Regions from separate parts of the Homo sapiens genome. Here region 2 is linked to region 1. Evidence: fine-mapped expression QTL. Tissue or cell type: whole blood. Region 1 holds a variant in brackets; the other region holds the start of a gene. All regions are shown on one strand. Distances are between the middles of the regions.

Region 1 (8,109 bases):
GAAAGCAATGCATTATTTTCTGCAGAAGTAACTAAAGACACGTTCTCTGAGCCTCCAGTGATAGGCCATGTTAGCTGGAAACAATAATGGTGGTTGTATTTCTGTTGTTTCTATCTCAGCCTTTCTTTTTCAGGCTGCCATAGAATTATTAAATGGTTTGAGTCAAAATCAGGCCTGAGCCTTTCAGAAGCCTTTCCTTAGACAAACACCGCTGGTAACGCTTTAGTTTAGCCTTCTGACAAGTGGGTCTCATTACTCCACCCATGTGCCCTTCCCCTCTGCTCCCATTCCCCTCTCTTGGATAAAAGCCTGGGGAGGAGTGAGAACTGCTTTGCCCTGTGCTCTTGGAGCAGGGCCTTTCTCTCAGGATACAAAGCCCTTGGGGAAGCAGGCAATTCTGCCCATGATGCTTCTGATGCTTTGGGTGGAAAAGGTTGCCACCCGAGAGCCTGGTTTAGGCACCACTCCAGCAACACCCAGGAATCAGCTGAGTGTCCCCCAGCATGTCACCTCCACGGTGAGGGTGTTGGACCTGATGACCTCTTCTAGATCCATTTTTAAACATTTCTCCAAGTGACTTTAGCACTACCCAGTAGAGGTTTCTACAATGACAGGAATGTTCACTAAAGGCTACCCTGTACAATAATGGCAGCCACTGGTCACGTGTTGCCTTTGAGCACTTGAAATGTGAATGGTACAGTGCAGAAAGACTTATTTCATTTAATTTTAATTAATTTAAATTTAAGGAGCCACAAGGGGCTAACGGCTACCATATTAGACAACACAGGCCTAGGCTACTGGATTCTGTATGTTTAAAACTGTGTGTTCCATCCATTCTATCTAGAAATTATACCACATCCACCCATGTCTCTTCATTTCCACAGTATCCACCTTAAGCTGAGCCACCAACATCTCTTTCTTAGGAAATGACAATATTTACTCCTTGGTTTCCTTTCTCTAACTTTAGCTCCCTCTGATCCGTTTGCTACAGTGAAAAGTGATCTTAAAACAAAAATTGACCAAGTTACTCTTCTCCTCAAAATCCTTCAACAACTTCCCCACTGCAGTAAAATTGAAAACCCCTCATGAGGCCTGCAAGTGCCTGCATGCTCTGAGCCCTGCTCCCTTGAGTGTCTGCACAGTCTGAGCCCTGTTCCTTCAAGTGTCTGCACACTCTGAGCCCTGTTCCCTTCAGGCCTCATGCTGTCTCAGTCTCCCCACTGTACCCACCACAAATTAGGCTTCTGGAAGCCATCAAACCCTTTTTCAGTTCAGGTCCTTTGCTTAAACTTCCCATTTGTTCTAGAGCTGTGCTGTCCAATACAGATGCCACTAGCCACATGTGGTTTTTAAGAAATATGTATTTTTTCATTAATTAAAATTAAACAAAACTTAAGATTTATTTCTCAGTCACACTAGACACGTTTTAAGTGCTTGCTAGTCACATGTGGCTGATGGTTACCATATTGGACAGCACAACAGTTCTTTTGGACAGCACAGTTCTGGGACATTTTTCCCCACACTTGAGCTTAGCTAATTCCTACCCATCCTTCAAGTCCAACATTCCATAGAGGCCTTTTCTGACCCTCCACTCTAAATTAAGGGTCCCCGCTTTATTTCTCACAGAACCTGCAATTTTCCTTTTCAGTTCTTCCAACTCTTTGCAAAATTATAGTTACGTGTCTGACTGTTTAATATTCATGTTTCCTATTAAGATCTAAGGCAGTGTCTCTTTTGTCCACCTGTCAATCCTCAGCCCCTGTCTCAGTGCCTGGCACTTAGCAGGAGCTCATTCATGTTGAGTGAATGAATGAAATAATGAATACGTATATAGATGGGTATAGTGGCTAAACATCATTTACTTGCCTAAAGAAACACAAAATCAAGAGTGAGAGCTTAGGAACCACATGGTCCTGAAATAAAACTCTGACTTCCATTCTTATTCTAACCTTTGGGAGCCACTGTCTCCTCATGTAAAAAACGAATGTTATTGCCATCTTAGACTGCTGTGCTGAGGAGTGAATGGGCTGACACAGGCAAAGCCCTCAACATATAATTATAATAGGTGTCATGTGTACATGCGTTTTTTTCTCTTTATCCCCTCTGCTATGTCCTTCTATCCTTCTCCATGGTCCCCTCCCTTCCACGCTGCATCTCTGGACCTGGCCTCTGCGTCTCTCATGCCTCAGGCCCATCCCTCTCTAAGAGATCTTTAGTTCCTGCCAACCTGTCGCAACTCAAGGATTAAACTAAACATTTCTCCAGCATAGAGCACCCCCTATGTTTGGGCATTCTTCACTGTCTTCCCTGTATGTGGCTGTATAAACCAGCCTGAACTACCTTCCCACCCAGAGCTCATAAAGGCAGACTCCAGCCTGCAAATGCTCTCAGAATAGCATTTGCTCAGAATAGCAGGTGCTCTTAACACCTGGCAGAGAGGGGCCCCATTCTCTTTGGGCATTTTCCATCAATTTGTATCTGCAGACCACATGCATCAGAATCACCTCCAGGGCTTGTTTAAAATTCAGATTCTTGGGTCTCACTCTAGATTTATTTAACCAGAATCTCTGCAAGGGGGGCCCTGAACCTGCATTTTCAATAACCAGCTCAGATGATTCAGAGCTCTTGTCAAGCCTTCTCAGGGTATAACATTTAACCCCGGGGAATACTGGGAGGATGGTTCCGATAAGCCACTCACTGATCCTCCTTTAATGTTTATACAATTTCATTTTTACATCAAAAGATCATTTACCAAACACCTACCTAGTGAGTTATTGAGTTTATTACTATTATTTGGAACTCATAAACTCACATGAGGAATTTTGTCAGGCTTAAAGGGGGTGCCAACCCACTCTTCTGCCCAGAGTTACCTGCAGCAGCAAGCCATCCTGCAGACTTCCATGGGGTAAGTGTCCACAAAAGTCACTGGAAGTCCCCATTGGTAGTCATTTAGAAGGACGCAGTGTAATCAAAGGACCATCACTGTTGTCTTGAATGGGTCGTGATTTAAAATTGCTGGTCTTTTTGGTCTTTAATGATAATTTATATTTGTTTCATCACTATCAATTTGTTTTCTATGGGTGATATGGTTCACCCTACAGTATGTAGGCAAGCAGGTTGGCATCAGTATAAACCATGGCCTACACATTCCTAATAACTAGAACTTAAGGCACGCAGCTTGCTGTTCAAATATAAATAACCTCAAAGCCAAAGCAGATGTGTGTATACGTAATCCCTTCAAAATCTGCATGAGATTGATATTTCATCATAGTAAGCGTGTTCATTTCCCACATGAAATTGTAAAGGCAGTGGCTAGGATAGTGGTGCCAGCAGAGACATTTAAGCAGCCCTGAGCCAGGCTCTGAGCAGAGCTCTTGTCATTTTTCCTTTTTTTTTTTGCTTTGGGAAGAAAAAGATATCTTCCCCTGGCACCCTAGGCCCACCTCCTTCAGGCAGAATTGCCAGTTCCTCTGGCCCCTGCCTCACCCCCTTCCAGAGTTCTCTCTACTTAACTCCACCCTCAGGCTCCACCCTTGAAGGGCACAGCCCAGCTGTACTGAGTTGAGGTTTTTCTGACCCTCAGAAATAAGCAGTTAGCAACATCCCCAGCGCCTGTCTTCTTTCTGCTCTTCCCAGGGGGCCCTTGACTCACCACCAACCCACAGGGGAAACCACAGAGCACAGCAGCCCAGCGCCGACTGCACCTCCCCGGAAAAGTTCCTGGAGGTTCAAGAATGGCTCCTCTATGTTGACTCCCTGTCTCATCTCAGGTGCCATGCTGGACTTTTATATACGGGGTCTTAACCCCCCACCACAGCACAAGCCAGCAAGGTGGGGCTTCATGCAAATGAGGCGGCTGAGGGCCAAAGCAGTGTGGTGGCCACCCCTCACCAAACTGAGCCTGTTCCCAGTAACTACTCCCTTTACCGTCCCATGCTGGAGGCCAGCGCCCAGCCAGCTCCTCTCTGTGCCTTTTTTTTTTTTTTTTTGGTTTTTATTACATCCAATCCCATTTATGTGAATGTGCACAAAAACAGCAAGATCTTGCTGGTTTGGAACTAGGACATACTTAATTTTAAAAAATATTGAGGATTATTTACACATAGTGAAATGCATAGCTCTTAAGTGAACCATTCAATGAGCTCTCGGGTGCAGCTGGACCAAGTTAACAACAAAGCAGTACACAGGGGTTTAGCTAAGAGGCCAGGATGAAGAAACTAGGAAAGGAGCCACTCACCCTCACACAGCTGTACCACCCCAAGTTCCCCTTCGCATTCCCACTGAGGGCCTGCTGACATCCTGTTTAACATGACTGTCAAAACAACTCTTGTTATGCTATCTCAGCCATGTTTATGAGAGCAAAACCACTTGGGAGTAAGCCAAATGTCCATTAAATAAACTACAGTGCCATCCATACAATAGAAAATACCATTGAGAAAGAACATTAATAGACACGGAAAGCTGCCTGTTAAAGGCACCTCATAAAACACCAGTGTTAACAGTTGTTCTGAGTGTCCGGATTATGGGCAACTATTATATTCTTCTTCTGATTTGCCAGTACTTTGTGCAACAAATGTAATAGTAAATAAATTTTATTTGTTGAAGGTGCTTGGCTCTACATTGTTACATCTGGAGGAACAGGGTGTACACAGGAAGTGTAGAAACGCTACAACAGCAATCTCCCTGACAGAACTGAGATGAGCAGCGGGGAACGCCTACATGCCCTAGGACAGGAATCTGTGGCTGGCTTTCTCTGGTTCAGAAGGTCTTACTCTGTGCAAGAGCTTGCACACATATCTCATCATTTGGAGGAAACTAACTGGTTAGCACCCCAGGCAAGGCTGGCTGTTCTCA[C/A]TGCCCCTTCCATGTGGTTTACTGCCTCTATGGTTTTGTTCTTCCCACTCCCTCTTGCTGAAGAGCCCTCTGGCATGGCTCAGCAGATGTAAAGTCTATCCATACTGAGGCAGGATAATGGCCCCTCAAAGATGCCCCAATCCCTGCATCTTGTAAATATATCATGTTGCATTGCAAAAGAGGCTTGGCAGATGTAATTGAGGTTACAGAATTTAAAATAGCCAGAGTACAGCTGGGTACGGTGGCTCACGCCTGTAATCCTAGCACTTTGGGAGGCCGAGGCAGGTGGATCACTTGAGGTCAGGAGTTAGAGACCAGCCTGGACAACATGGCAAAATCCTGTCTCTACTGAAAATACAAAAATTAGCCAGGTGTGATGGTGCATGCCTATAATCCCAGCTACAGGGAGGCTGAGGCAGGAGAATTGCTTGCACCCAGGAGGCGGAGGTTGCAGTGAGCCAAGATTGTGTCACTGCACTCCAGCCTGGGTGGCAGAGCAAGACTCTGTCAAAAAAAAAAAAAAAAAAAAAAGCCAGAGTAGCCCAGATCATCCAGGTGCACCCAATCTAATCACATGAGCCCTTAAAAGCACAGAACTTTCTCCCGCTGGAGTCAGAAGAGAAGTGGCAGAACTCAACAGAAAGATTGGGAGCGTGAGAGGGACTTGACCCCCATTGCTGAAGGCTACGTGGAAAGCATGAGGAGAAGGTGGGCAGCCCCCAGCTAACAGCCAGCAAGGAAGTGAAGACCTTAGTCCTACAACTGTAAGGAACGGCCAACAATGAGCTTAGAAGCAGATTCATCCCCAGAAACTCCCAAAAGGAACACGGCCCTGCCAAAACCTTGATTTTGACCTCGTGAAACTCTAAGCAGAGGACTGAGTAGAGCCACATGTACCCACACTTCTAACCTACAGAACTGTGGAATAATAAAAATAGGTGTGATTTTAATCCATTAAATTTGTGGTCATCTGTTATGGCAGCGATAGAAAACAATACACTATCCTTCAGGATCAATGCAAATGCCACCTCTGTGAAACCTCCTCCAATTCCTCCCTCCATATACGTGAGCGTTCCCGTCTCTGAATTCTCCAAACACTCTTCCCCAGGTCTCTTCAGCCACCACCGTGGTCCACCTGGTCTTAGGGTTATTTGTGCACATGTTGTATTTCTCCTGCTAGATAGACTGCGAGCTACTTGGGGCAGTATCTGAGGCTGATTCATCTTTATTTTCCTTTTAGGGCATTGCAGAACGCTTCATACGTAGTCAGAGCTAAATTTTTGTTGGAAGGATGTCTTCCTACCAGTAGATGGATGTTTATTGTTTAATAAAATGAATCTCTATGGCAATTAGGAATTAAAATATGGACCCCGGAAATATTTGCAAATATAGAAAAAAGTAGCCAGTGATGGATACTGACAGCATAAGAAAAACTAGAATGTGCAAAAGTAGGATATCTAAATCTTTTTGATGCTTGGAATCTGACTGCTGTGGCAGTTGGTCCTAAGATGTACATTAACACAAAAAATAAATAGGATTACAAGTAGGATTCTAAAATATAACCTCTTAAAACTTCTAGCAACATGGAAGTTTAAGGAAATGAATGTTCCTCTGCTGCTTCAAATAGATAGAAATGTTGTAGAAACTGTAATATAATTTTTTAATATCCAGCTGAGCTCAAAATAAAGAAAAGGAAACTCTCAGATTCCAGAGAAGAGAAAACTCCAAGTCAGACTGTCAAGAGCAATGGCTGAGCAGTCCAGTGGGCTTGGGAACAGGACATCGGTCCTCATGGCTTGGCTTAGGGATTTAACATCCACAGGTGAAGATGAGATGTTCTCAGGCTGATGGAGGTAGAAAGCTGAACTTCTATACCAAATAGTACCTATGGCATAATAAGAAACTTCTATTTGGTCTTCATCCCTGGTTCCTGATAGAGAATTCCTAAATTGCTTGGAACTTGCTAGGTGATAGGAGTATCTTTTGTTCCAATGAGGTTACTTTTGGTGGGCTTCTAGACAGCTTCAGAATGGCGACTGGTTACCAAAAGGACCAAGCCTTGATACGAAGCCTAGAATTTTTAGCATCACTCTACCCTCCCACACCACCCCATCCTCCCCAGGAGGGAAGAGGGGCTGGAGATTGAGTTAATAATAGAGTGTGCCTATGTGATCCAACCTCCATAAAAAACCTCTAAACGATGGGGTTCAGGGAGCTTCCGGGTTGAACACATCCATGTGCCAGGAGATGGGGGCACCTCAACTCCATAGAACAGAAGCTCCTGCACTTAGGACCCTTCAGACCTTTTCCTATGTTCCCTATATGCCTGGAACTCATCTGGTTGCTCATTTGCATCCTTTATAATAAGCTGGTCAATGTAAGTAAAGTGCATTCCTGAGTTCTGTGAGCTGTCCTGGCAAACTATCAAACATGAGGAGAGAGGCATGGGAACCCCTATTTATAGCCAGTTGGCCAGAAGTACAGGAGGCCTGGCACTGAAGCAGGGGCAGTCTTATGAGACTGAGCCATTAGGCTGTGAGGTCTGTGATAACTCCAGGTAGTTAGTGTCAGAATTGATCTGAACTGTTGGACACTCTGGTGTCCAGAGAATCAGAGAATCGGTTGTAGTGTTGGAAAGCACCCTATGTAGAGTACCCATGAAGAGGGGAGAGAAAAAACTATTCATTAGCCTGTGGAAGCAGCAAGAAAGCATTGTATCTACTCAGAGTTCTTGGGAAGAAAAGAAAACAAAAAGTTTATATGAAAAATCAAAATTCCAGGTGTGGGGTCTATATTTACCCAGCACACATGGTAGAAGCTCACCTTTGAACTGATAAAAAGGCAATAAAAGCACAGAAGACACATGTGCTCTATAGGGAATCGTTCCCCAACCCACAGAGCACAAGTTCACCACAGGAAACGGAACACTCATTGAGAATAAGCTTATAATGAAAAAAAAATGATCTATGTGAATAAATATTCCACATTGAAGGAAAGAATTAGACTATGAGAACTTGTAAAATCTGTTAAAAATAAATTGTACTTAAAATGTTAGAAAACACTTCTGTGAAGTTCTTACTACATGGTAAGCATTGTTCTAAGCATTTTACTTGTTTTAAAGAGATGAAAGAAGGAGTAGAACACAATGATAAAATACAATAAATGGAAAAGGAAATAGTGTCGATCATCACATACGAAGCACTACCAAAATTCCCCATGCACTGGCACTTGGTAGAGCTACATGACTTGTTCTGG
Region 2 (8,109 bases), 85 kb before region 1:
CCACCCTCCACCCTCAACTAGACCCCAGTGTGGTATATATTTTATATGAATGTGGCACATTTATCCATTTACTCGGTGAAGGACATTTAGTTGTTTATAAATTTTTGCTGCTACAAATAATGTTGCCATCAACATTCTTAAGACTTATCTCCCTATGCACATGTGCAAGAGTTTCTCTAGATCACGCCTTGAAATAGAATGGAAGGAGATAGGTCATAGGACATGCACATCTTCAGCTTCACTAAGCAATGCCAAACTGTTTCCCAAAGTATTTGTGCCAGCCTGCACGCCCATCAGCATTTTATGAGAGCTCCCATTGCTCTACATCCTCACCAACCCTACCATCCAACTTTTTATTCTTGCCATTTTGGTGGGTATGGAGTGTTAGTGTGGTTTGGCATTTCTCTAATTACTAATGAGATGCAACATGTTTTCTTGCGTTTATAGGGCATTCATGTAGCCTCTTGTAAAAGACATTTTTGTAGCTCTTGCCAAGTTTTTTTCTATTGGAATGTTTGTCTTTGTTATCGATGCACAGCCATTAGTTCTATATTCTGGATGTGCTTTCATGGGTTTTTGTGTATAGGAAATATCTTTTCACTCACTTTTGTATTTTTAGTTGAACGAAAGTTTTAAATTTTGCTAGTGCTAAACTTAGTTTTTTTCATTTTTCAGTTTGTGCTTCTGACGTCTTGTTTAAAGAACTCTTCCTGACTTTGTGGTGATATATATGCAATCTCTATTGCAACTTCTGTATATGTCAGGCTTCCAAATTTCCTGGCTATTTACTGTGTTGTTATTCTGTTGGTCTCTGTGCCAAAACCATATTAACCACTGTAACTCCATAACAATGTCCACTAGGGCAAGTCCTCTTCGCTTAGTTGTTGCCATTGCTATGTTACTGTTGTCCTCTTCTCTTCTCTGTTCTCCTTTTTCTGCCCTCCTTCCCCTTCCACCTCTCCCTCTCCTCCTCCTTATTCTTCTTATCTTCTTTCTTCTCCTGGAATATCTAAGCTTTTTTTTACTATTGCTCTATAAGTTATACATTTTAGAATCACCTTGTCAATTTCCATGGAAAACCTTATTTAGATTTTGATTTCAATCATATCTCTCAATTATTGAATTTATCAATCATGTTGTAAAGAATTCACATGTTTGTGACAAGGAATCCTTCCACAATGGAACATGGCATGTCTCTCCCATTTACTTAGAACTTCTTTAACATCTTTCTATAAAGTTTTATTATTTTTCACATAAAGATCTTGCATATCTTTTGTCAGATTTATCCGTAAGTTTTTGTTCTTTTGAACACAGTATCTTTTTTGAATATTATCTTTCATGACCTTTTATTGCTAGTCTATAGAAATGCTCCATTAGTTCCTTTTTTAAACAGATAGATTTCAACTACTCAAGACTGAGACGGGAGTAGATGTGTCAACACGCACTTGGTAAATTAGATATTCGGAACAGACATTCAGCAGTAGACAATGGCATGGCCGTACTGATTACAAAATTCTTGAAATACTTCCATAATGGGGCCCCTTGATTTCTTTCCTGTCACGCTGGCCATACTGACCTCTCTCCGGGGACAGGCTCAGATCTCTCCAAGGTCCAGACGCCACTGTATTAACACCAGGCGTGGCACGGGGCCGCAAGCCTTGCTCCACTAGGAAGGCCAGTGTCTGTTCCGGGTGTTTGATTCTCATGCCTTGTGAGTTGTTAAATATCTTTAATATTACTCCTTAGGTTCGTATGTTGGTAGTAGCTAAACACCAAGGGTGAAATATTAATCTGAGTGAATTCTCAACAAGAGATGATCAGTTTTGGGGTTCAAGGAGGGAGTCGGGAGATCTGAGATGTAACTAAGGAGATTCTATTCAGCACTGGCCTCTGATAATCCCCCCTCCCCTGAAATCCCTGCAGCTTCACCACACTCCTCTTGAAGCTCCTGCAGGCACTTCAAACGCAACACGTTTTAGATTGAACACATTATCTCTGTCTGCTAAATCAGCTCTCTCTCTGCCTCCCCTAATTAGTGGAAGAGCTTCTCCAATGATCTTATCCCCTATGGTAGAAAATTCAAAATCATCCTAGACTGTGCCTCACCCTTATGTCCTCTTTTTTTTATCACATACCAAGATCTGACAATTCTATTCCATGAAAAAAATCTTTTGAGTCTGACCTCTTCTCCAATCCCATTGCAGCTGTCTCCTAAGTTTTGGAATAGTTTCCTAAATGGTCTCTTGGCCTCTGTATTCGTCTGTTTTCACACTGCTGTGAAGAAATACCTAAGACTGGGTAATTTATAAAGGAAAAAGGTTTAATTAACTCACAGTTCTGCATGCCTAGAGAGGCCTCAGGAAACTTACAGTCATGGCATAAAGGGAAGCAAACACGTCCTTCATAAGGCGGCAGGAGAGAGAAGTATGAGGAACCAAGTGGGAAGAGCCCCTTATAAAACCATCAGCTCTCACGAGAACTCACTCACTATCATGAGAACAGCATGAATGAAACTGTCCCTATGATCCAATCTCCTCCCACCAGCTCTCTCCCTAAACGCATGGGGATTATGGGGATTACAATTAGAGATGAGATTTATGCGGGGACACAAAGCAAAACCATATCAACCCCCAACCTCTTTTGCCCCTCCAACACTGCTCTTGGCATTCCAGTTCCTGCCTGGTCCATAGCCTACTCCTTCTTCATCTGTGGAAGGGAGGGTAGTGGGAGTCATTAGCCTGGGCAGGGAGGAGTGTTTTATCACTACACTGTTTAGAATGGTGCCAATACAAAGCACATCAACTTTCAGCAAGTTTATTATTGGGTTTAAATTCTCTACACACGATGCACTGCTTTTGCCTACACCTGGACAGTGTTCCCACTCACTCTCCTTAGTATGATGCTGGAGATAATATGATCTGCCATGAAGGTTAAATAAAGCAATGTTCACTGAGAACTTAGCCCAGGCCCCTGCACATGCTGAGCATTTTGTTAATGTAACAATGATTAGTAATAGCATTGCTATTGGTTCCCCATCTCTGGCAAAGCCTTTCATGCTTGGCCTCCCTCACTCTCTTTCACCTTCCTAAACCCTACACTCCAGCTATGCCAAACTGTTTACTCTGCCTTGGACACACCAAGTTCCTCAAGCCTTTGCAAATACTCCTTACGCTCCTAGAACAATGGATGTCAATTCATCATTTAGGATCCAGCTTACAGTCATGCTTTCCATGAAGCCTTCCTCAAATTAGCCACACAAAAGGAGTGACTCCTCCCTGTATTCCCATGACCCTCTGCTCATGCCTCCTCTTTAAAGCCTGCCTTCACTGGAGTTCCTGGAAGGGAGAGTCTGTTCAGCACTCATCTCTGTATCCACAGTCACCAAAATTGTAACTGCCCCATAATAAATTCCCAATACTTGCAGGGATTTTGCTTCTTGGCTTGTTTTGTTTTGCTGGAATGAATGAATAAGTAAATGGGAACGATTTTGACTTCACCCTAAGCCTAGCTAAAAGTTTGGGTAGTGACAGTTTTGGTTATTTTGTGTAACCTGATAGTGGATCCCCTTTCTATGCCAAAAAAAAAAAAAATCCCCCAATACTAGAGTACCTGTTTTCCTAGGGAATTGACCTCAGCAACTGAAGGAGAGGCGATTCAAAGCAGGGAGTGTGATGAATAGGTCAACTCTGTCCTCGCAGCCGTCCCTGAGAGGGCGCTGTTCCCAAATCGAAGCCCCAGAGGCGGAGACTGAGACACCGGCACTCTCCCACTGGACTGGGTCAGCATCCCTCTCCCCGCGCGGCCGCAGGTCTAGAGCTGAGCGCCTGCCCACAAACATGGCGGCGCCCTGCGCGGCTTCCCGTCGCCGCAACCGTGGGGCCGGCCCTGCCTTGCCAGTACTAGGGGACTTCCTCTGCGCGCCGGCTTCCTGCCCAGCTGGCATTTAAACCACCGCCTGGGGCTGCAGGATGCTGCTGCGGATGCAGAGCTGTCCGCGGGCTGGGCAGCGTCGCCGTCTCCCCTGAGCCGCCTCGGTCCGGCAGGAGCGGAGCCGAAGCATCCCTTGCTGCACGCAGGGCAGAGCAGGCGAGGGCTGGGGGCCGATCGGGGACCCCGGCTTGGGACCCCGGCATCTGGCAGTTTCCTTGCAGGTTCAACTTTAATTGCCAAGATTTCACCCCTCCTCCTCAAGCCCAGATTATTTATCCTCCCTCCGGCCTGGGCTGCTGGATGCAGCAGCGGCTGGGCTTGGTCCCAGGAGCAGGGAGAGTGCGCTCCCGGCCCTCCTAGCCGCGTGCCCGGGCCATGGTGCGGCTGAGCCCCGCGCTTGGGTGAGGCGGCGGCGCGGCTCGGAGCCCGGCGGACCGGTCCTACGGGACATCTTCCCCTGAGGAGGAGTCTTCCCCTGGGGCTGCGTGCCGGGGGCGAGCGGCGGCCGCGATGTTCAGCTGGCTGGGTACGGACGACCGCCGGAGGAAGGACCCCGAGGTTTTCCAGACGGTGAGTGAGGGGCTCAAGAAACTCTACAAGAGCAAGCTGCTGCCCTTGGAAGAGCATTACCGCTTCCACGAGTTCCACTCGCCCGCCCTGGAGGATGCCGACTTCGACAACAAGCCCATGGTTCTGCTGGTGGGCCAGTACTCCACTGGGAAGACCACCTTCATCAGGTGAGCCGGCCCAGGGTCCTGGCAGCCCACCCCGGAGCCCAGCGCCTAGTCCCTCCGGTCACTCCTGGTGCTCCATCCCAGACAGGGGACCAATGGGAAGCCTTCAGTTGAGGGCTCTGAAGAGATCTGTGTTTGTGCAGGCGTCAAAATCTTACCCCACAATTTTTGCTGGTCCCCCTTCCCATCCTACCCAATACCTGTCCACTCTACTTGGCCCTTGGCTGTGGTGGTCAACCTGAAGTATTCAAGTGTAAAGCCATTCCCAGTCTCCCCATCTTATGGATGATGAAACCGAGGCCCAGGAGGCACAATGGAAGAGCTCCTGGTCTCTGGAGCGCCTTATGTTGGTGGGGATGTCTTACGTCTTCACTTTTTAGCAACACATCATTCACGGGCAAAACCTCTTCCCTTGTTTTTCAAGGGGCTTGGCACTCACATGGGGGCCTCACAGTTGCAGCTGAGTTCTGATGGGTGCGGGCCTGGGAACGGAGGTGGCCTGGGGATGCTACTTGTCCTCCTTTTATCATTTCCTTCTCTAAAGCAGAGCTCCTGTGTATATATCTTGGAGACTCAACAGAAGCTGAGTCCAGAAGCAGAATGCTTTTTTTTTCCCCTTTCTCTTATTTGATCTTAATGGCTTAATAATAATATTAAAGACGCTTAGAGATGGAAGGGATATTGGCATTGTCTCATCCAGTTGCTGAGTTTGCAGGTGAGATAACCGAGGCGCAGAGAAGTTAAATGAATTGTGCAGAGCCATCTAAAGAGTGGGCAGCAGACCTGGGATGTTAAGTCCTAGATGCATGTGAGGAGATGCTTGGCTAAACGCCTGTAACTCTGAGAATGAGTCATCCATTCCCTTCAATTACAGAATCCTTGGGCTGGAGGGAGGCTCAAGAAGTCAATTTGTTCACCCTGCATTCAGAGAAGTCCACCAGAGGCCCTTCTTATCTTTAGAGAACAGGCTTCACTCCAGTCCTCAATCTTCCCAACTTCAAGGCCAGCCATTTTCTTGGCCCCTTTTATAGCCATTCCAAATTGTTGAGAATGCTGTGGCCCTCTGTCTTAAGACTCAGGCTCCCACAGCTTGAGAATGGAGTTTGGTGGCCCCCCAAAGTCAAGTGTGCTCATCTCCTGCAGAGGGTTTGGAAAGCAGGGGTACCCTTATTCCTATTCCTTGGCTGTTTGAGCATCCACAGCATGTGAAATGCTGTGCTTTGTTTGGTGAGGAGTGCAGAAAAGTTAACAGTCTAGTTACTAATTTTCTAGGTACTAATTTTCTCTAACATCCACCTTGTAACGCCAGCCTTCTGGAAGTAGCACCATGCTAATAGGTCATGTCTAAACACAACACCACATTGAGTTTGTCCTTGTGGAGTGCACAGCCTAGGGCTCAGCAGCTTTAAGAGGCCAAGTGATTTCTGAAGGAGTTTGGGAGGTGATGGGCCTGTTGGCTCTTGTATGTTTTATATTGATAGAACTGCAAGAGGCCTTAGAGATTAAACTAATCCATTGCTTCTTAACTTTCTATCTTTAGAAAAATGTACGTACATCCCAAATTTGCATATAATGTTGGGGGTCCAAGGGCCTTCTTTGGACTTTAGGGTGGGAACCCCTGATCTAAGCCATGCTTCTTGTTTTATTAAGCACCCATTGCTGCCAAAGGCACTTCAGAGCTGCCTGGGTTGCCTGCAGAGTTTCCTTTGTGAGCCCTGGCCTCCACTTGGCCCATTCATGCCTCAGGGGAAGTTCAGGCCATTTGCAGATGGCCCTTGCCCTCTCAGCCTTCCCTGGCTCTCTACACATATGGTATTTATAACCTTTCATACATTATCTGTAGCTTCTCCTTCCTGGTGTACAATCATTGACAAGACAACATCCATGCCTTAGCATCTCTGGGGCCTTGCCCAGGGTCTCGGCTATAGGAGGTTCCCAGTAGACATTTTGCAGAATGGGAGGGAAGATGGGGAGAGGTGAGGATCCCCAAGCAGCAGACAGGTTTGAGCGCCTTTTGTCTGAGACACTCTCCCGGCTTTGCCTAAGTCATCACTGGCTGTTAACTGGGTCTAAGAAAGTGGCAGAGTCAAATTGCCACAGATGATTCCTCATCTGAGGGAGACAGTAAGACCGGGAGAGGCAGATCGCTCTTCTTTCTTATCCTCCATGTGCAGTAGTTCCCTCTCCCCACTCATGTCAGCAACTGAATTTAGCTCATGCGTCAAAAGCTGTCTCCCCTTGAGGGAGTGTCAGCCAGCGCTGTAGGAGGGGTCATACCACAGGGAACCCTCCAGAACCAAATCATGTACTTTTCTTCTTTCTCATAAAATCCAGTAAACAGTTGTTTTTAATTGGAAAATATAGAAAAGAATAAATTTAAAGAAGAAAAAAAGTCACCCATAATCCCATGACTTAGGAGAAGCTATTTTAATTTACATATAAAATATATTTATATATAAAGCATATAATTTATATATAAATATATTTCCAGTATTTGTAGCTATTTTATAGCACAGTTGAGATCATGCTATACATATAATTTTGTATGCTGGCTTGTTTATTTTTGTTTTTGTTTTTGAGATGGAGTCTCACTGTGTCACCCAGGCTGGAGTACAATGGCACAATCTCGGCTCAGTGCAACCTCCGCCTCCTGTGTTCAAGCAGTTCTCCTGCCTCAGCCTCCCAAGTAGCTGGGGTTACGGGCACCCGCCAACACGCCTGGCCAATTTTTGTATTTTAAGTAGAGATGGGGTTTTGCCATGTTAGGCAGACTGGTCTTGAACTCCTGACCTCAGGGGATCCACCCACCTCAGCCTCCCAAAGTGCTGGGGATTACAGACGTGAACCACTGCGTCTGGCCAGTTTTTCTTACTTATAGCATGAACATTTCCTATGTTATAAGCGTTATTTGTCAGCATTATTTTTAACAACTGCATACTATTTCACTATTTGTATATACAATTATTCATTCAACTAATGAATAGCATTGTTTTTAACAGCTGCATACTATTCCATTGTGTGTATATACGATTCTTCACTTAATCTACTTCTCTTGGATGTTTTAGGCTATTTCTAATTTTTTGTTATTGTAGAATAATTCTGAATATCTCTGTGTATAATATTTTTTCCTATATTGTGTGTGTGTGTTTTTTTTGTTTGTTTTTGTTTTTGTTTTTTTGAGATTCCCAGAAGTGGAATTGCTAGGCCAAAGGTTGGGCAGGGTTTTGTTTAAAATATTTTTTAACTTTAAAATTTTTGTACTAAGAGTCATATTTTGCAGTTGTTTTCCGAGAGGGTGAGTTGACACTGCATCCCTTCCCCATTGCGAGTAAGGCTGCTCTGGGGTGGATAAGTGCGTCCATGCCTAGGTCTCAGAAGGCCTCCTCCTCTCCCTTCTCCCATCCCTGCTTCTTGCCTTGATTCTTGTCTCCATGCCAGGCCTGAA

What was found. PIP is the estimated chance that this variant, and not a neighbour inherited with it, causes the effect.
Region 2: EHD3 starts here. The variant in region 1 is fine-mapped to the expression of EHD3 in whole blood (INTERVAL, PIP above 0.99).

Annotation. Positions count from the first base shown.
Region 1 is chr2:31,315,257-31,323,365 of GRCh38, forward strand. No RefSeq gene overlaps it. Among named protein-coding and RNA genes, the nearest start is that of EHD3, 85 kb to the left of the region's middle. RefSeq lists a silencer at 3,530-3,599. The variant C/A (reference allele first, on the strand shown) is at 4,855.
Region 2 is chr2:31,230,182-31,238,290 of GRCh38, forward strand. It overlaps EHD3 (EH domain containing 3), which reads left to right and starts at 3,971. Exons shown (of 6, transcript NM_014600.3): 1 at 3,971-4,667. The coding sequence starts at 4,441. It also overlaps a transcript of CAPN14 not described here.